Linked DNA regions of Homo sapiens. The protein of the gene in region 3 purifies or fractionates together with the protein of the main gene of each other region. This does not show direct contact. Each region holds a gene or a part of one and is shown on either strand. Other genes may lie near its edges.

Region 1 (6,997 bases), on a different chromosome or scaffold from region 3:
TTTTTCTACATTTCTTATCATTTTATCTTCTGTTTTCTAATAGAGAATTTTTATCTCTATTTTCCCATTATTAAACCAGCTATGTATATATATTTTATTTATCTCAAAAACCAAGTTTTAGAACTTACCAGTTATATTATCTATTTATTAAATAATGCCTGCCTTAAAAATAAAACAATTACTTATTTACAACTTGGGTTTAACTTGTAGCTCTTTTTCTAGCTGGCATTTGTGTGTAATCTTGTGCATTGATATGCACACAAACATAATTCTTACCTTGAGTTTAATTTCTTTTCTTTTTAAAAATTCCTTGGGTTTAATAAGTGTCTTTCATTTCTCTTTTTTTTGGTCCTATTTAGTATAACATTTCCCCTTAGCAGAACTTTAATGGTACCCATGAGTTCTTTATATGTAATTATTTTTCTCAGTTTATTTGGGCATATTTATTGTTTGTTTGTCAACTTTCATTCCACCCTTTCCCAACAAATTAAGTTTTATCTTTTGGGTTTCAAATTATGAAACAATAGCAAAGTTGGACTAAAATAAAAAGATTCAGTTTCTTCAGCTCACTTTCTTTAATAGGCAACTTAAGAATATGTCCTCCCTAGATAGCACAATGGTGAAGTTCAAATGAGAACTTGAACAGGCAAATGCGTGACCAAACTAAAATGAATTGCTGTGCTGATATTAAGAGTTCCTGATGGCCTGCTGCTTGTCCATTACATAGGTCTTGATCTAGGAGTAGATTTTAACAAAAGTCACATCGAGATGTAAAAGCATTAAGCTGACTTAAGGGCCATGGACAGAAAACAGAAGGAAGTAACACTATATTAACTACATGTTGCTGAGGGCCTCTACTCCAGGAAGGATTTTACCTTCCAGAAGCTCTAGACTGGCACCGCCTCCAGTGCTGACATGGCTGACTTTATCTTCAGTGTTCCATTTGGCACAGCAAGTAGCAGTGTCTCCACCCCCTATAACAGTGATGCAGCCCTTGGAAGTGGCTTTCACAATTTCATCCATGAGGGCTTTGGTTCCCTTAGCAAAGGCATCCCATTCAAATACTCCTAACGGCCCATTCCAAACAATTAGCCTTGCTTGAGCCACAACTTGAGCATGATTCTTGTTGCTCTCAGGACCACAGTCCAAACCCATCCAGCCAGGAGATATGCCAGATGCTACAGTGGCTTTTCCAACCTGAGCGTTCTCGTCAAACTTGTCCCCAGTAACAAAATCAACAGGAAAAGTAATCCTTACACCATTCTTTTGTGCTTTGGCCATGATATCTTTAACGATCTTGGCTCCCTCTTCATCAAACAGGGAAGCACCAATCTCCATGTTGTTGAGTACCTTAAGGAAGGTATAAGCCATTCCACCACCAATAATCATCTCATTGACTTTGTCCAGCATATTTTTGATAAGTTGGATCTTGTCTGCCACTTTGGCTCCACCAAGTATAGCCAGAAAGGGTCTCACTGGGTTTTCCAAGGCTTTAGCAAAGTAATCTAGTTCCTTCTTCATCAAGAATCCGGATGCTTTATGGGGCAGATTCACTCCCACCATGGAACTATGAGCGCGGTGTGCAGTGCCAAAAGCATCATTGACATAGACGTCCCCTAGCTTGGAAAGTGATGCTCGGAAGGCTTCTATTTTATCTGGCTCAGCTTTAATCTTCTTTCCAGAGGGATCTTGGCCCTTCCCTTCTTCCTCCACATGAAAGCGCAGGTTCTCCAGCAGGATGACTGAACCAGGAGCTGGGTTGGCACAGGCTTTCTCCACTTCTGCGCCTACACAGTCCTTCAGGAACAGAACATCCTTGCCCAGCAAGGATTTGAGCTCAACAGCAACAGGTGCTAAGGAATATTTGTCAGGCATGGGAACACCATCAGGCCGACCTAGATGACTCATAAGAACTACTGCCTTGGCTCCATTGTCCAGGCAGTACTTGATGCTTGGGATGGAAGCCTTGATCCTCTGGTTGTTTGTAATCTGGTTCTTCTTCATGGGAACATTGAAGTCTACTCTCATGATGACTCGCTTCCCTCTAACATCCAGTTTGTCTAAAGTCAACTTCTTAGAAAGAGACATCTTGACAATATAAAGACATAGGCTGACACCTGGATCTTAATGCTGAAGAACCAACTTGCTGTTGAGGGGCTGGGTCGGTGGTGACTTCTAACGCCTTTGCCCTTGTCCCGCCCCTTTCTTCTCCTCACTGTCTCCAGCACAACGGCCACTGTTAGACTGGAAAGCAAATCTAGCTTTGTGATTGGCTCATGGTCCTGTCAATCTCGATCTGAACTGTGTTGCTAGGTGAAGATTCCAACTTCCTGGGCAGAGGGTCATGTAGTGGAATAGAGCTGTACCTGGCTTCAGGCGAGACTTGGGTAGGTGAAGAAACCCCAGAATAAGAATGGTTCTAAAAAAACAAGAATAGTCCTGAGGTGTGCGCCGCCTTCTGGCTCTTTTTGCCCCCACCCCACAGCTCGGTTAACAGTTGCTTTTATTATTAAAAACAAAACAAAAAGAACTCCACCCCCACCCCCGCAAACCTACATACACCTCATTCATGTCAAATCTTAACCATTTTGATATGTAAAAACCTCTGCAGTGCCAAATAAAAGGAATATTTGAAATAATGATTTTCATATGAAACCTTGCTTATTCAAGTCAGGATAGTATAGTTCTGTTTTTTCCTTGTCTTGATAAATATTTCTTTGAGGATGTGGCTTGTTGTTAGTCTTCATCTTTAGATCTATTCTGGGACGTGGTGGGAATGCTGTCATATTTTCATTACTTTGCTTCTTCCATTTTCAGACTACCATGAAAGAATGTTTGGTCACTTCTGCAGGAGAATCCCATAAGATCATAGCAAAGAGAGTATCAGTAACAAGTGCTGAAAGTAATGGTGACATTTCTTTCAGACTACAATGTTATGATGAGGCTCCTTATTTTTTGTCTCCTCTCTGTTTGCTTTCCTACCTGTACAACTTAGAAATTGAGCTGAAAAATAAATGCATGGTTTTCATGAAGATGAAAACATATATTAGAATTGAAAGTGAGTAAGATATTCTATTTTTGGAGAAAGCAAATGTATGTGGCTAGTTGGTTTAGTAATGAAAATTGGCTTTACAGTTTTTTTCATTCTACTCCATAAGTTGAGTGAACTAAATATGTAAAATGAAGGCTTTGACAGAAATATATTTGAGGCATCTCCTATTAAGATGGCTAAAATAAAAAATAAAAACAAGTGTTGAGAAAGAAGTGGACAAATTGGAATCCTCATTTATTGCTGATAGGAATGTCTAATGGTGCAGCCACTTTAAAAAACAGTTTATCGGTTCCTCAATGTTGAACATCGAGTCAACAGCATTTAAAAGCAAACTTAAATGGTGTTAAAATATATAGTAACAGAAACTCTCATTTGTTGCTCCCAGGAATGAAATATGCTACAGACATTTTGGGAAACAGCTTGGCAATTTCTTAGAAATATGCATAGACTTACCATACAAGTCATCAATCCTATTTCTAGATATTCATCCAAGGACATCAAAAACCTGTATTCTCTCAAACTTCTGTAAACAAACGTTTAGAGCAGTTTTATTAATAATTACCAAAATTGTATATTCTTCAAGTAATAAATAAATAAACTGTGATATATCCATGCAATGGAATATTATTTTTTAAAAAAAGAAAAGAAACAAGCTATTTACTTACACAAAAGCCCTGGATAAAACTTAAATGTGCCTTACTAACTGAAAGACGCCAGGCAAAAAAATTTTGTAGTTATTGTATAATTCCATTTGTATGACATTTGATAAAAGGCAAAACTATAGGGATGGAAAACATATCAGTGGTTGCTACAGGTTAAGAGAGCGTGGTCAACTATAATGGGGATACACAGGAGGATTTTTAGTGTGGTAAACTTTTCTATGAGGTACTGGAGTGGTGGATACAACATTCTATGCACTTGTCAAAATTCATAGAATCGTACGTTGTAGAGAGTAAACTTTAATGAATGCAAATAAAAAATATGATCCAGAGTGTTAGGGAATCGTATTATATAATGTAGCCTCTGACAGATAAGCCTAACTGTATCGTAATATATAGGAAATTTTACTACATGTGATGTGGAAATTTTACTACAGGTGATGTGGACAAAAAAAGGAAATGACTTAAGTAACTTTGCAAAAGAGGTTTTCAGTTTGTAAAACTAAAGACAAAAACAGCTGTCCATAAATATAATACTCTAGTTGGTAAGTTTGAATATCACAAGCTTATAGGTGAATAATTCTTAAACTATTTGTGTTATTAGAGATAAACAAATAATGGAAGATAATTAAAAGTTTCTCACCGTCAGGAAAATAAATTACAAATAAGCAAGGGCAGAATGAACTCTGTGGTGCTGGATTAAGAGTCTGAGATATCGGTATGAACTCATATTAAGTTCAATATACACATAGGTTGATATGGAAAATAATTACAGATATATGTGTATAAATATGTGTTAATTTTCTCTTGCTACTGAAGCAAGTTGTCACAAATTTAGCTACTTGAAATAACACAATTTTGTGTTCAAAAACAATTCTGTAGGTCAGAGATTCAGGTTGGCTCTGCTGGTTTCTTGCTCTGGATTTCATAAAGTTTTGATGGCTGGGTTTTCATTACAAGGCTCTAGGAAGAATTTACCTCTAAGCTCATTTAGGCTTTTGGCAGGATTCAGTTCCTTGCAATTATAGGACTGAGCTACCTGCTTTTGGCTGGCTGTTAATAAACCCCTAAAGGCCCTCTCAGGTTTGTAGGTTCCTGTATCTGAGAGCCAGCAATGATGCATTGAATTCTTCTTACAATTGGAATCTCTCTGATTTTCATTTCTACTCCATCTGTTTTCCACTTTCATCCAGAGAAAATTCTCTGCTGTTAAGGACTCATTTGATTAAGTTGGGCCAAACTAGATAATACAGGATAAACTCCCTAATTAAATACTGTGATATAATTATATCTGCAAAGTCTCTTTTGTCATGTAGCATCAGTATTTACAAGTTCTGGGGAATAGGACATGGACATCTTTGGTGGGCCGTTATTCTGCCTACTCAAACAGGATTTTGATAAACGCAAATATTTTCAAGCTCTGTTCGTAAGAGGGCAGAGAAGCAGTGACTTATAAATAAATAAGTGGGGGTGGGGGAAAGGACAAAACTTCTCTACAGAGGAATTCCAAATAATGTATGTAGACACATTCCTCTACTAGAGGTGGAGCTTAATGGACTGTTTGAATGTAGTGATAAATAGATTCTGAGTATTCAAATTACTATTCACCATGATTTACAAATACTAGATTTGAAAGACCCAAAAGGAAAATATACTCTTCTGTTTTGGCACCTTTCTGTAAAGAAGATTTGCAGTGTGCTCTGCACTGAGCTAAACCACAAGGGCATTTTGTCACCACTTCCCCAAGATCTGTCTTCATGTAACAGCATCAAGCTCTGAGGACCTTGTCTTTCAAAATTAAAATCCTGTTACCACGTATCATCCCACATAGAGGCTGAAATGTCTTCTTGACTAAATCCAGTTTTCATCTATGTTCACAGTATCAATGTCTCTACGTTCTCCTGTTCTTGGACAGGTTTTCCAGGTTTTCTTTATGCAAATGTCCTCTGTTTCTCTCCAGGTCTTTTAAGGGCTGCTTACTTAGCTACTAGTATTTGCTCATGGTGGTGACTGATTAAAGTCTATGATGGAAAGATTTCATTATAGGTTATCCATTTTCTTTGAAAATTGAAACATGTTATGGATATAATCTATTATTCTTTCTATTAGGAAGCCTGTGAAATATTTGGGGCAGTTTACCTTCAATTCACCTTTCCATTGACAATGATTGTAAAATATGCAAATATATATTCCATACGTTATGCAGAGTTCTGGGTGCTGAAATGACTAATAATCTATAGGTATGTATATTCTCATGTACATATTGTGTCATTTTAGTCACTAATTTTTAATATTTCGAAACACACCAATCCTTCTTTTAACAATTTAAAAACAATTTTTAAATTGTTTATGAATTTGTAAATGTCCCTATTAATAATAGCAGCAAACTTCAATTTATGCATTTGAAAATGTTTCCATGAGTTTTTGGGATCATTGTAAAAGGTAGACTAAGGTGGCTGTATGGTGCTATCTCTCCCTTTCAATGGCGAAAACCGCTACTCTTGCGTCAACCTAATATATAACTTTTTACACAGTGCAGAATTAGTTTGAAAACAACATAATAATTCACACGATAACATTATGTATGAATTAGCCAATGCATTTCTTTTAAAGTATACTTTTTTGCATTTGTTCCTCCATCTACTTATCTATTCTTCTTTTTTTTCTTTATTATTATTATTATTATTATTATACTTTAAGTTTTAGGGTACATGTGCACAATGTGCAGGTTAGTTACATATGTATACATATGCTATGCTGGTGCACTGCACCCACTAACTCGTCATCTAGCATTAGGTATATCTCCCAATGCTATCCCTCCCCCCTGCCCCCACCCCACAACAGTCTCCAGAGTGTGATGTTCCCCTTCCTGTGTTCATGTGTTCTCATTGTTCAATTCCCACCTATGAGTGAGAATATGCGGTATTTGGTTTTTTGTTCTTGTGATAGTTTACTGAGAATGATGATTTCCAATTTCATCCATGTCCCTACAAAGGACATGAACTCATCATTTTTTATGGCTGCATAGTATTCATGGTGTATATGTGCCACATTATCTTAATCCAGTCTATCATTGTTGGACATTTGGGTTGGTTCCAAGTCTTTGCTATTGTGAATAATGCCGCAATAAACATATGTGTGCATGTGTCTTTATAGCAGCATGATTTATAGTCCTTTGGGTATATACCCAGTAATGGGATGGCTGGGTCAAATGGTATTTCTAGTTCTGGATCCCTGAGGAATCGCCACACTGACTTCCACAATGGTTGAACTAGCTTACAGTCCC
Region 2 (7,111 bases), on a different chromosome or scaffold from region 3:
ACACAATCTACCTGTGAGTAGACAGGCAGACACGCTGTGTTCTGCAAACATGTTTTGAGGTGTGTCTTAGTTCAGCCTGCTATTACAGAATACGATAGACTGATTACTTAAAGAAAAGACATTTATTTCTTACAGTTCTGGAGGCTGGAAGTCCACCAAGATCAGGGTGCCAGCAGGGTCAGGTTTTTGGTGAGGGCCTTATTCTTGGCAGAGCAACAAAGCACTGGACTCTATCTCTTTATAAGCATACACTGATCCGATTCATGGGGACTCCACCCTTGTAAGCTATTTACCCCCCAAAGGTGCCACCTCCAGACACCATCACGTTGGGGATTTAGGCTTCAACATATGAATTGGCAGGGAGATACAATTCAGTCCCAGCAAGGTGCCAGCATTGTTCACTATGTCCTTCCCTGAAAACTCCCTTTGCCCACAGGTCTCACCAAAGGTGTGGCCCTCAGTGGCCATGTTGTACCACACAATTCTCTTCTACCCCTCCCTTTCCCTTCTCCATCACAGTGGACTGGATCATGCCTGGATAATCCCTTTCTTGGCCAGAAACCAGTGAGATCCTTTCTGGAGAATCTGAACTAAGGAACAGATGCTTGGGGCAGTCTAGTTGACAGAGACTGAGACAGAAAGGGAGAGAGGTTAGAAAGACAGATGGACCTTGGGTACTTGACTTTCTATAATGTTTAATTCTAATAAAGTCCAGCCATACTTTATTTTCAGATAACCTATTGTATATTTAAATAAAACCTCCTTAAAATATTTATTTATTTATTTATTTATTTATTTATTGAGACAGAGTCTCACTGTCGCCCAGGCTCACTGGAGTACAGTGGCACAATCTCGGCTCACTGCAGTATGTGCTTATAAAGTGATCTCCATCTCTCGGGTTCAAGCAATTCTGCCTCAGCCTCCCGATTAGCTGGGATTACAGGTGCCCGCCATCGTGCCAGACTGATTTTTGTATTTTCAGTAGAGATGGGGTTTCACCATGTAGCCCAGGCTGCTCTCGAACTACTGACCTCAGGTGATCCACCCGCCTCGGCCTCCCAAAGTGCTGGGATTACAGGCGTGAGCCACTGCGCCCAGCAAAATAAAACCTTTTACTCTAGCTGGTTGGTAGATGCTACACACACATTAAGCAACAGACGCAAAGACCCACATCTCCCATTTGTGATTGTGGACAAGGAACTCACCTCTAGGAGCCACAGCTTGGGGCAGGAGAATGAGGGTCTTCCCGAGCAGAGGGCTGGGGAGATGAGGTGAGAGCAACTGGGAAAGATGTCACGGGAAAGATACACTCACTAAGAGCTACAGGGCTTCCGGCAGGGGTCAGCGCCTTTGGTCATAGTGGCTGCGGAAGGCTTCATGAAAGAAAGGACATTTGGGCTGACCTTGAACTTAGAGAAGAGGAGAAGAAAGATCAGGAGACACTCTCAGAAGCAGAGGAAGCCATGACCCACAGAAAGGCGTGAGCAGTAACAAATTCCTCTTGGTGAACAATGATGTCTGACACTGAATTCAAAGTTGTTTTCTGCGCTACTCTGTAATCAGACCTCCCTCCCTCCCCATTAGCCACAAACGCTTCAGCAAATGCTGTGCACAATAGCTGGATTTTAGTGATTCCTGGGAGGAGGGTGGTGAGAGACACAGAACTGAAGATAACCGTGTTCCACCCAAGGTCAAATGTTGAAGAAAAAGAGCACCCTAAGGACACACAGGCACAAGGAGCCCGGTGATGGGGCAAGTTGGCTGCAGTGTGGGTGTGCCTGAGGACCATGAAAACTTAAGACCCCAAGAAACCCCCATGAACATGTATCAGCTCAGGCCATTTTGTTTAGATAGTAAAGGAAAGGTGCCAGGTGCAGTGGCTCACACCTGTAATCCCAGCACTTTGGGAGGCTGAGGTGGGGAGATTCCTTGAGGTCAGGAGTTCGAGACCAGCCGGCCAACGTGGTGAAACCCCGTCTCTACTAAAAATACAAAAATTAGCTAGGCATGGTAGTGTGCGTCTATAATCCTGCCTACTTGGGAGGCTGAGGCAGGAGAATCGCTTGAACCTGGGAGGTGGACGTTGCAGTGAGCAAAGATGACGACACTGCACTCCAGCCTGGGCAACAGAGTAAGACTCCATTGCAAAAAATAAAAAATAAAGGACAGGCGATCCCAGCATGTGAAAGGACATGGAAACCCTTTGGTAATAGAACAACAGGGAAAAAATGCCAGAAGCTTCTAGACTGAAAACAAGTTAAAACAGACAAAAAGAATAAGATTACCTATAAAAGACAGAGAAGCAGAGAAAACAGCATCTGGCCAGGCACAGTGGCTCACACCTGTAGTCCCAGCACTTTGGGGAACCGAGTCAGGTGGATCACCTGAGGTCAAGGTCAGGAGTTCGAGACCAGCCTGGCCTGGGTGACAGAGCGAGACTCTGCCTCAAAAATCAAAAAAAAAAAAAAAAAAAAAAAAAAAAACACAAAGAAAACAACATCTGTACCAGTAAATACTGGAAGATATTAAAACGTTTATGGAGTTTCAAGGAAAACGATTGTTATCATAGAGTCACATGCACACCCAGGCTATGTATTATGTGGGAGGGGAAAAGAATGGCATTTTCAGACATGCAAGAACTCAAAATACATCATCCACGCACTCTAAGAAAAAAAATCATGTGAGAATGCTGTTAAAGAAGAAAAAGACAGGATGTGTTTTATTTTTTACTTTTATTTTTTTGAGACAGAGTCTTGCTCTGTCGCCCAGGCTGGAGTGCAATGGTGCAATCTCGACTCACTGCAACCTCCACCTCCTGGGTTCAAGTGATTCTCCTGCCTGCCTCAGCCTCCCGAGTAGCTGAGATTACATACGCCCGCCACCACACCTGGCTAATGTTTTTTTGTATTTTTAGTAGAGATGGGGTTTCACCATGTTGTCCAGGCTGGTCTCGAACTCCTGACCTCAGGTGATCCGCCCACCCCGGCCTCCCAAAGTGCTGGGATTACAGGTGCGAGCCACCACGCCTGGCCGGGAGGATGTGTTTTATAAAGAACGATGGAAACCCATAAAAACAATAAAGCTGTCAGGAAAGTCTAAAATGTTTTTGTTAACAGGAATGTGAAACATGTAATAGTTAAGAAAAAAGTCTCTAGTGACACAAGGGCAAAAATAAAAGAATTACAATTCCAGGTTATTTCAATTAAACCTAGGAAATGAAAAGAAGTCAAAATATCCTACATGATTTTTCTTGTGAGATGGTAGAATATTTTAAATAGTGGTTAATTTTTTGATATGGATAAAGAAATATAGATGAAAACATACTTGTTCAAAATGTACAGATCGCCGGGCACGGTGGCTCACGCCTGTAGTCCCAACACTTTGGGAGACGGAGGTGGGTGAACTGCTTGAGTTCAGGAGTTCGAGACCAGCCTAGACAACATAGTGAGACCCTGTCTCTACAAAAATACAAAAATTAGCCAGGTGTGGTGGCATGTGCCTGTAGTCCTAGCTACTTGAGAGGCTGAGGTGGGAGGATCACTTGAGTCCAGGAGGTCAAGGCTGTAGTGAGCTGAGATTGTGCCACTGCACTCCAGCCCAGATGACAGAGTGAGACCTTGTCTCAAAAAAAAAAAAAAAAAAAAAGTGTACAGATAATCCACAGAAGAAAAAAAGAATGAAAACTAGACATATTCTACCAAAGACAGGAAATAAAATACAGAAATTTTTGAGTACCAAGAAAGCTTATAAACAAAATTCAAAGACTGAATATGATCTGAGCTGTCCAGTATGATAGCCACTAGTCACATGGAGCTATTTAAATTTAAATTAATTCAAATAAAATAAAAACATTCAGCTCAGTCACACTTGTCACATGCAAGTGCTCCATGTGTTGATGACTGCCCAACTGGATTACTATCACCCCAGAAAGTTCCAGCACACAACAATAAGAGTCAGCGAAACATACATGGTAACAAATGCACCCAGGTACAGTAAGATCCCAGCGATGTTAAACACACACACATATTAAAAAGTGAGTTCATTAAACTATCAGTGGTGACAGCTCTGGGAAATAAGGTGACCAGGGGCTTTCACTCTACCTTATATACCTTATTGTTTGATATATATATATATTTTATTTATATATATATTTGATTTATATATCTCTATGTATTTGATATTATATATCTGTATTTGATATTTATATATCTCTATATATTTGATATTTATATATCTATATATTTGATATCTTTTGATATTTATATATGTGATATATATAAATATATACATATAAGAGAGAGATATATATATATGTATATTTTTAGACAGAGTCTCATTCTGTTGCCCAGGCTGGAGTACAGTAGTGCGATCACAGCTCTCTGGGCTGAAGCAATTCTCCCATCTCAGCCTCCCAAGTAGCTGGAACTATACGCATGCACCACCATGTCTAGCTCATTTTTTATTTCATCGAGATAGGGTCTTGCTATGTTCCCCAGGTTGATCTTGAATTCTTGGCCTCAAGCGATCCTCCACCTTGGCTTCCCAAAGCACTGGGATGACAGGCATGAGCCACCACACCTGGCCCTATTGTTTGATTTTTGAATAAGCGTATTTTTAAAACGTCATTAACATGTTTTCAAAGAAAACAACAATCAATTTCTTGAACTTGGAGTAGAACTTGGTTCTGTTAAAATAAAGTGATTTTAACTAGTATAGATGTATAACGTACATTTGCACTAACAAACAAAGATGGCAAAGTATGTGTCCTATATTTAGACAACCCTGGAAAAAATTTGTTCTGGGCCAAAGGGTGACATCACCCATTCAGATGCAAGTCTTAGCAGACACTTGATCATTTCAAACAGTAGTTCTTGATTTGAGGAGGTCCCTCAGGCAAAGACTGTCGTTAATCTATTTTTCCATTTAGATTTATACAGTTGATAACAGATCAAATTTCAGAAAGGGCAGCTTTGAGTTATCCCTAAATTTTCCATAAGAAAAACTTATTGCAAGTCATAATGTTTCTGCATTTTCCCACTGATACCACACAGCTGACAAAGGGGAAGTTCCCAACTCAATTTCAACAACAGACATATGAAGTCAGATACAACAACATAGTGCCCAAAGAAGAACTTCCTTTTTTTACCCCCTAAATTGGGGATGGTAGAAGACAGATTATGTTCTTTGTTAAAAGAATTCCAAAGTTTTCATCTTTGTCCAATACCAGATCTTCAATCTTTCTAAGAAAAAGAACTCTTAAAAACGTCTTAGGCCGGGGACGGTGGCTCACGCCTGTAATCCCAGCACTTTGGGAGGCCGAGGCGGGCGGATCACAAGGTCAGGAGATGGAGACCATCCTGGCTAACATGGTGAAACCCCGTCTCTACTAAAAATACAAAAAAATTAGCCAGGCGTGGTGGCGGGCGCCTACTGTAGTCCCAGCTACTCCGGAAGCTGAGGCAAGAGAATGGCGTGAACCTGGGAGGCAGAGCTTGCAGTGAGCCGAGATCGCGCCACTGCACTTCAGCCTGGGGGACAGAGCGAGAATTGGTCTCAAAAAAAAAAAAAAAAAAAAAAAAGGTCTTAACCCTATTTCATGTCTACCCCAGGGACTAATTTAGTCATGTATCTGCCAACAAAAACATACTCACCTATGTTTATTTTGGTTCCTATATAAATCTTCTTAGTAGCTGCTTCCAGTGAATATTGAGGGAAAAGCTCTCTTAACGGAAAGCTATGAGAAACATCTATTTTTCTAGGAAGTATATGCTCTCTGTAAGTCAATGTTGGTTAAGCAAGGGGACAGATTTGGTTTTGTTACCAAAGTTCAACACGAATTTTATTTGACTCTGTCTCCAACAATGGACCATAACATTAGCTCAGTAAGAGATCATGACCAATACCAAATGTATTTCATAACTGGAGAAGCCGGACATCAAAAGGACAGCGAGAAGACAGTGGGTTCTAAATAATTCTTCAACAATTTGGCCTGTCCTCAATGTCCCCAAAGCCCTTCAGAAGAAAGTAACAGAAGGCAAAAACACAGCAAAATGAGGGAAGTATTAAAGATCCTTGAGCATCTTAACCTCAGATCCAACGGTGAAAGCTCCTAGGAAATTCATCCTCCAGGCCGGGCACCATGGCCTGTAATCCCAGCACTTTGGGAGGCCGAGGCCAGGGGATCACCTGAGGTCAGGAGTTCAAGACCAGCCTGACCAACATGGTAAAACCCCATCTCTACTAAAAATACAAAATTAGCCAGGTATGGTGGCACACGCCTGTAATCCCAGCACTTTGGGATGCAGAGGTGGGGATCACCTCAGGTCAGGAGTTTGAGACCAGCCTAACCAACACGGTAAAATCCTGTCTCTATTAAAAATACAAAATTAGCTGGGCGTGGTGATGCACGCCTGTAATCCCAGCTACTTGGGAGGCTGAGGCAGGAGAATTGCTTGAACCCGGGAGGTGGAGGTTGCAGTGCGCCAAGATCGTACTATTGCACTCCAGCCTGGGTGACAAGAGCAAAACTCCATCTCAAAAAAAAAAAAAAAATCATCCTCCAGGTCACCTTTTTGTACCACTGCCACCCATAGCAGAACAGAAATCTTCAGTAATCTGGACTATTTCTAATAATTCATATAGGAAGCTGGACTGAGGTTAATTTTTATCTATGTAGAAAGTCTTTCCAGGCTCCTTCAAGCTCTTTATAAAGACCTACTCCCTAATTCTAATTGCAAATCGTGTGTTAAAGTAAGTTATATAAAGATGTCTTTAGGCAATCCTCTATTAGCCTGGTTCTAATTGCCAAACATTGTTTGAAAATAATAAAATTATACTTGTCTGAATATAGTCTCACTAATTAAAACTGACAATCCCTTCTTCCCCCATGTTTTTTGTAATTCATGAAAGTTTTATAGTGGTTTGCCACTTCCACGCTTGGGTGGACCAAAAAGTTAAAGAGTACATTTAACTCTTTACACTGGCTTACACCTGTAATCCCAGCACTTTGGGAGGCCGAGGCAAGCATATCACCTAAGGTCAGAAGTTCGAGACCAGCCTGGCAAACATGGTGAAACCCCATCTCTACTAAAAATACAAAAATTAGCTGGGT
Region 3 (6,988 bases):
AGAATGAGACCCCATCTCAAAAAATGAAAATAAAACAGAGAGAACAGCAAATGCCTACCTCGTTGGTGACAGTGAATGCTGAAGGAAATACTGTATGTAACCCAGAGTAGAAGCTCAATAGATGGAGTTGGGCAGCAGTGTTTTACCAGTTAGCTCTGAGCCTCCTAGCAGCCATGGTGAGGATGGAAAGCCTTTAGGTATCAGTTATGGCCTAATAAAAGGCAGGTGAACAGATGCTAAGAGAGCTGCACTTCCTCCTAGCTCTGAGCTAGGTGAGGGACTGGTCTGATACCTTCTTATCAACTACTCAGACAGGACACACAGGAGCACAGAGGGAACCCAGGAAGCAGGTGCTGATGCACACGGAGCCACAGAATCGAGTGGAGCAAGATAGAAAGTGAAGGATTTGCACAGAGGTCTTCTGCTTGATCTAGTCTCTTTGTGGCCCCTTAAGACCCCAGCTGAACCCTCAGGCCCCAAATGCTGTCACTCCCATATCTGGAAATTCCCTGAGCCTCATGCCTGACCTGCCCAGCATGGGCACCTGGGGCCTGAGCCTCTGGCTACAGCCCCACAGGGGAGGCCTGGCAGCACAGAGCCCAGCTCAGAAAAGGGATAACAAATAATATTCCTTGGGAGGCCGAGATGGGCGGATCACAAGGTCAGGAGATAGAGACCATCCTGGCTAACACGGTGAAACCCCGTCTCTACTAAAAATACAAAAAAATAGCTGGGCGTGGTGGCGGGCGCCTGTAGTTCCAGCTACTTGGGAGGCTGAGGCAGGAGAATGGCATGAACCTGGGAGGCGGAGCTTGCAGTGAGCCGAGATCACGCCACTGCACTCCAGCATGGGAGAAGGAGTGAACTCTGTCTCAAAAAAAAAAAATTCCGCAAGTGCTTCTGGTGTGCCAGGCCCTCATGCTAGGCACAACAGCCCCACTTTACAATGAGGATGCAGAGGCTCAGAGAGGGGAAATCACCTGCCCAAGGCCACACAGCCAGAAAGGGGCAGGGCTGGATTTGCCTAAGTTCTTAGGACTGCCTTTGGTGAGGGTGGCCACCCCCGACACTGGAAGTCCTGGGGCCACGGGTCCCAGGCAGGCCAGCCATTTGGGGTCCTTTAAAAGAACCTGCAGGTGGCATCTTCTGCCAGGGCCTCCTGCCAGCCCAGCGGTGCCACAGACGCCTGGTATGAGGCCAGCTGGCATCATCCCACCCACTGCTAGGGGGAGACAATGGACGTCATCTGCCCAAGGCACATTTTGAGGCAGAGAGGGATCCAGCCCAGGCCTAGGTGTCCACAGCACAGGAGCGGGGGAGGAAGAGTGGCTTCTTGGAGCAGAGGCAAGTGGGTCCCTCTGCCTGGTGGGTCATCACAGCCCTCCTCCCTCGCCCAAGTTCTCCCTTAGACCCAGGAAAGGGAGAAAAGCCTCACAAGTTCCAAGGTAACGGAGCTGATGGGTATCAGGTAAGGGGAGCTGGGGTGAGCTGGCTGGGGTGAGCTGGCTGGGGTGAGCTGGCTGGGGCAGCGTGGCCTGGCAGGTTGAGTGGAGCACTGGCTGCGCTCTTGAGGTCTCTCTAAGCCTCAGTTTCTCCACCTGTGACAAAGCTGCACACTCCTGCCTCCCCAGGTGTTGTGAGGAGAGAAGAGGGAAAGTGGGGGGCCAGAGGGAGAGCTCCGCAGACATGAGTCTTTAGTGGAGAAAAGACCCAGGCCTCCCCTAGCACCCCAGGACACTCCCACTTCTGGCTGGAGTAGCTCAGGCTAGGTTGGATGGTGATTTCCTGTATAAATGGGGAAGTGTGCCCAGAAAGGCCAAGAAGGCAGCCCGAGACCACACAGGGGATCAGAGGAGGCAAAGAGAGCCAGGATCTGCCCACTACACCCTCACAGCAACTCTAAGAGGTCAGGGTGGCCAGGCCCTCTCTTTTGCAGAGAGAAAAACAGAGGCTCAGAGGGGTAACTTGCATGCCCTAGGTCACAGAGTGGCTGAGCGTGTCCCCAGCTCCCCCCTTCCCTGGCCCTGGGGGCATAGCCCCTTCCCCAACCCTGCAACAGGAGGAACCCTGACTTTCCTTTTCCAAGAAGGGTCCTGCTGTTATTCCCACCACCAACACTCAAAGCCCCAAAGAAAAAGGGGCACCCACTGGAGCAGGGGCCAGCTGGGGGAACTGCTCCAGGCCCCCTACCCCCTCCTGGCGGCAGCGTATTAACATTCCGAGCGGGTTCTTGGATAGCCTGACCTACTTCGGAGGCCTACCGAGTGCAGAGGGGGAGGGGGGGGAGACGGGGGAGGAGGAGGCGGGGAGGGAGGAGAAAGGATGGAGACAAGAAGACAGGAGGTACCTGGTTTGGGTTTGGAGAAGCAGCCGCCCATGGCGAGTGGCCTGAGGATGGCCGGCAGGCAGGAGCACAGATGGGGAGCTGTCGGAGGCCTAGGGCGCCCCCCATGGGGCTGGACCCCCTGCAGGCCTTAGAGACGCTGGAGCCGCCATCCTGCTGGAGCTGCTCTAGGACCTGCAGGGGAGACTGGAGCCATCAGGACCGGGGCGTGTGGGCAGGTAGAGACACAGAGGGACGGAGAGAGACAGTGGGAGCTTCGGAAAGAGTCTTACATTTGAGCTGGGAACCATGGCGTGAGCCTGATCCCAGAGCGTGGGGCCCTGGAGGTCACCTCCCCTTTGAAGCCCTCCAAGCTCAGCTCCCTCACTCCTCCAGTGGAGTTCCTCTGCCCGAACCTCGGCCGCCCATCGTCCAGCCCCGCGGCTGCCTTGCCCAGGAAATCCTCCCTGATTTCTACTGCCTCCTCGTGCCCCCCTTCCCCTCTCCAAATCCCACAGCCTGAGAGCTCTGGGACCCTCCATTCTCCCGGGAGACCACTATGCCTAGGCTCAAAGAGGGGGTCACCTTGGGGAAGCCAAAGCCCTTCTCATCCTTGGTCTTCTCCCTCCTACAATGGGGGTGACATCAGGCTCCCCCTAGCCCAGCCCCACCCTGGCTAGCACTCCGGACACCCACCTCCTCGCAGGGCAGCCACTGCTCCGTGTTCCAGGCCCAGCAGTGGACTGAGGCTGCCGGGCCTTGGAAGGCCGGGCAGGGAGGGCAGGGGTCCAGGAGGCGGCCCAGCCTCCACCCTCCTCCCAGCTCAAGCTGTGGCCAGGAGGGGCTGGGGGGCGGTGTGGGGCTGGGCCAGTCCACTGGTCCCCAGGGAAACCCTGCTCTGTGGTGAACAGAAGTGGGCGGCCAGCCCGGGCCTGATGGGGTTAGGGGAAAGGGAAGCCAGGCACACAGCCCTGCCACGCCTGTGCCCAGCAGCCATAAGCTCCCCCTACCCCCGACTCCAGCCCTTCACAAACGCCCACCAGGCCTGTGGGCAGTCATGCCCAACAGCATATGGGGAAAGCAAGGGGTCAAGGTCCCATCAAGGTCAAGCAGCAGGGGCATCCCTGTGGCCTCCCACCCCACCCTCCCACCTTGATCAGTTTTAAGGTGGGCAGGGGCCCAGAAAGCCCCCATATCACCCTAAGGCCCTGCAAGGTGCCCTGGGGGAGGGGACACCTGCACAGCAGAGAGATCACTGTAGCCAGGTGCCTTCCAGGCTACAGGGTGGGCCTTCCGGAAGATGCAGCCTACAGGTGGACTTTGGAAGGCCCAGGGCACAGGCATAAGCTGCCTTGTTTGCAAATGACCTCCCCACAGTCCATCCCACTGCCATCCTCCAGTTTCCTCTGGAAGTTCTTCCTGAAGTCTCACTTGAGGTGGGGCTGAGACCCACCTGGTCTGGTCCAGATACCAGGAAGGGCCGTGGGTGGGTGCCTGAGAGCAAGGGGTGGAAACAAAAGGCCAGGTTGGAGAGGGACCCTTGGTGCCTGGCCCCTGCGCCTGTCGGTCCTCGAGGTGCCCATTACAGGGGAGGAGGCGGTGGCTCCCACAGCCACTGGGGCGTGCCTTGGCTCTTTCCCCCACTTGTCATCAAAGAAGGTCTGTAAAACTCAACTGCCACCTGCCCCACCTGCCCCTTCCCTGGGCACTAGGCTGTCCCTTCCTGGGTCCTGGTTTCAGCCCTGGTTCAGCCCTGCCCGCTTCCTTCCTGGCTGACCTCAGGCCTCACCTGATGGGCCACAGATCCCAGAAAAGGTCAGACCTGGTCTTGCCACTGGGGACCTGCCCAGGCTGTGCTGTCCCTTCCCGAGTACCCAGGGACCTGAATCCCCCAGGGCCTGGGCCAGGAAGGAGACTGGGTGGGGCCCCTGTGCCTTCGGCCTACTGTGTGCTAGATCGGCTTGGAGCCCAGTCACCCCACTCAAAGGCAAAGGTCCTTGCCAGGGGCAGGGCAGGAGGGACCCCCAGAGTGCAGAGCGCCCGAGTGCTATTCCTTGCCCATGAGCTGCCCACTGCAGAAAAGTTCTAGCAGAGCCCAGTGCTAACCACCCAGCAGGAGTCTGTGTCTGTCCCAGGGACCCCAGGACCTGTGAGGCGGGACTGGATTACTCCCATCTCACAGAGCGGCCCCTGCTCCACCTGACCCTCCCAGGGCTCCTGGCGCCCCCAGGGTGCAGGCTGGGCAGGGTCCTCTCCCCACTCCTCCACCTCTCGCCACCTGCCCCCACTGCCTCATCCCAAGGGCTCCTGCCCAGATCGGACTCCCAGTGGCTTCCAGGCGTCCTAGGGGTGGCATCTGATCCCAGTCCTGCCTTCGAGTGTGGGGGCTCCGCGCTCTCCCCTCCCCCACGGAGCTCAGGGCAAGCCTCTGTCCACTCTCCCCGCCTCTGCACGTGCAGTTCCCTCTCTCTGGGAAGCCGATGCCAGCAGCCTCGCCGGCTCCGTCCCGTTGCCCCCGCCAGACCTTGCAGCCCGAGAAGGGGGACTGGCACACAGTGGGGCCCCGCGGCGAGCCGGGAAGGGGCCGTTGTGGGACGAGAGAAGGACGAGGTGAGCTTCGGACCCCGGCCAGTGCCTCTGGCCCCGCTTGCCAACCCCCAGCCCCTAACGTGCCGGGCCGGGGTCCGAGACTTGGGAGCGCAAGCGCTGGCCCCCGGCGCCGGGGCGAAGAGGCGGGGCGGCGGGCGGGGACCGGGGTTCCGGGGACCAGGGTCCCCGGGGCGGGCGCTCACCTGGGCTCGGCGCGGGCCTGGGCTCGGGAACCGCTTGGGGCCGCGGGCGCGGGGGGGCGGGGAGGCGCGGGCGGGGCGTGTCTGGCGCTGCGTTTGCACTGCGGCCGGGGAGCCCGCGGGCCCAGCACCGCCCCGCCGGGCCGGAGCAGGTGGGGGGCGGCCGGGGGACAGGGGCAGGCCGAGGCCCTCGGCGTCCGGACCGGAGTCGCGGGGCGTAGGGAGGCAGCCAGGGGCCGCTCTGGCCGGGGGCGCCCCGGGCCCGAGTCTGGGTCTCCGGGGATCCTCGCGACCTCCCAGGGATGCCCAGCTGGGGCGCGGGCAGGGTCTTTTTTCCTTTTCTTTCTTTCCAAAGTCTCAGAACCATCTGTGGGCGGGGTGGGGGAACTTGAATCACTCTGAGAAACCTCCACAAGAAAGAAAACCCCAATCAAACCTTGCTGCCCACAGCTCCCTTCACTGGTTGGGGGAGTTCAGGTTCCCCGGTGTCCTAGGTTCCTCCCGGCCCTCTCTCCACACATACCAGGGTCTGTTTTCAATTATATTTTATTACATTTTCTTTTTCTCACCTGTCATTTACCAGAACTCCTTGGGTCTCCAGAAATCACAGTGCACCCTGATGTTGTGCCTCCTCCTCCAGGAGGCCCTCCCTGATCAGCCTCCCCTCTATTAGGGCTGATTATTCTGGTTCCTAACACTTGGGTGTTTCATTGTCCTTAATGTGTGCATCTCTGCGTTGTAGGTAGACCTTGTCTTTCAAGCAGGCTGGAGCACAGAGGCTGTGTGGGTTCCTCCCCGGTCTGGGCCTTGCTCTCCTCTCCTGTAAGGAGGACAATAATGACAGCAGTAAAGTCCCCTGTGCCAGGCCCAGCCAGCCTTCCCAGGCCATCCTCTGGGACTATTTATGCCCCACCCCACCCAGGGGGCAAGTTCGAGCCCCCACCACCACCACCCTCCTACAATTTTACAGATAGGAAATGCAGCCCAGGGAGTCCTGGTCTCGTTCAGGGTCAGGAACAGGCCCTGCATGGGTCACACTGGGGGCAGGTGGTGGGGTGACCAGGCCCAGAGGGCACATGTGGCTCAGTTCAGGCAAGTCCTCTCAGCTCATGTGTTGCTTCCACAGTGGGACCGTTGCCACTGCCACAGGAGAGTCCCATCACAGGGCAGATGGCAGTGCTTGGGGCTGGTGCCCTCAGTCTCCAACCAGCCTGCCCCCATTTCATACACGTGGTGATCTTGCTGCCCCACCCACCTTCAGAATCTCCTCTAGCCAGGAAGACAGTGTGCCTCATAGTAACTACAGCTGTGATTTTGCATGCATTTATTTCCTTACCCATCACAACAGCCTGAGAAGGAAAGTTCTCTTTGTATTATCTCCATTTCACAAACGGAGAAACTGAGGTTCAGTGAGGTTAGGGACTCTCCAGGGCCACACAGCTGCTAAGTGGCAGAGCAGCCCTGGGCAGGCTGGCCTCCCAGATGGAGGGCTGGAAGCAGGAGGGGAGAGGCCTACCAGGCTCATGCAAGACCACAGGGCCTCCAGTGCACAATGCAAGTCCTGTTCTGTGACCTTGGCAATCAGTGAGTGGACCCCTCTGCTCCAGCCTTCCCAGGACACCGCAGGTAACTGAAATACTCTCCCAGACTGCTGCCAGGACACCATGACAGGCACAGAGCCAGGCACAGGGGGTGCTTGGGAAGTGGGGTCGGGGCTGCTGAGTTTGGGGTGCCAGAGATAAAGCTGGGGAAACAGGTCAGTGTAGGGACTGAGGCCAGCAACTTGGGGAGATACCCTGACACAAGGCAAGTGCAGGCCTGACCTGGGGCAAGTCCATTGTGGCTCCCTTTGCCGCAGGCACTGTGCTTGAGGTTC

Evidence for each region.
Region 1: the proteins of AIFM3 (region 3) and PGK2 purify together in Homo sapiens (affinity purification with mass spectrometry; 2 studies listed by BioGRID and IntAct, with this or other methods). This does not show direct contact.
Region 2: the proteins of AIFM3 (region 3) and NMT2 purify together in Homo sapiens (affinity purification with mass spectrometry; 2 studies listed by BioGRID and IntAct, with this or other methods). This does not show direct contact.

The regions. Positions count from the first base shown.
Region 1 is NC_000006.12:49,785,100-49,792,096, forward strand, and holds PGK2 (phosphoglycerate kinase 2), read right to left. Parts: upstream 2,187-6,997; 5' UTR 2,089-2,186; coding exon 835-2,088; 3' UTR 561-834; downstream 1-560. UniProt on the Homo sapiens protein: Essential for sperm motility and male fertility. Not required for the completion of spermatogenesis.
Region 2 is NC_000010.11:15,158,628-15,165,738, forward strand, and holds part of NMT2 (glycylpeptide N-tetradecanoyltransferase 2), read right to left. Parts: intron 1,410-7,111; exon of another isoform or gene 1,206-1,409; intron 1-1,205.
Region 3 is NC_000022.11:20,963,335-20,970,322, reverse strand, and holds the start of AIFM3 (apoptosis-inducing factor 3), read right to left. Parts: upstream 3,069-6,988; 5' UTR 3,020-3,068; intron 2,519-3,019; 5' UTR 2,379-2,518; coding exon 2,348-2,378; intron 1-2,347. UniProt on the Homo sapiens protein: Induces apoptosis through a caspase dependent pathway. Reduces mitochondrial membrane potential.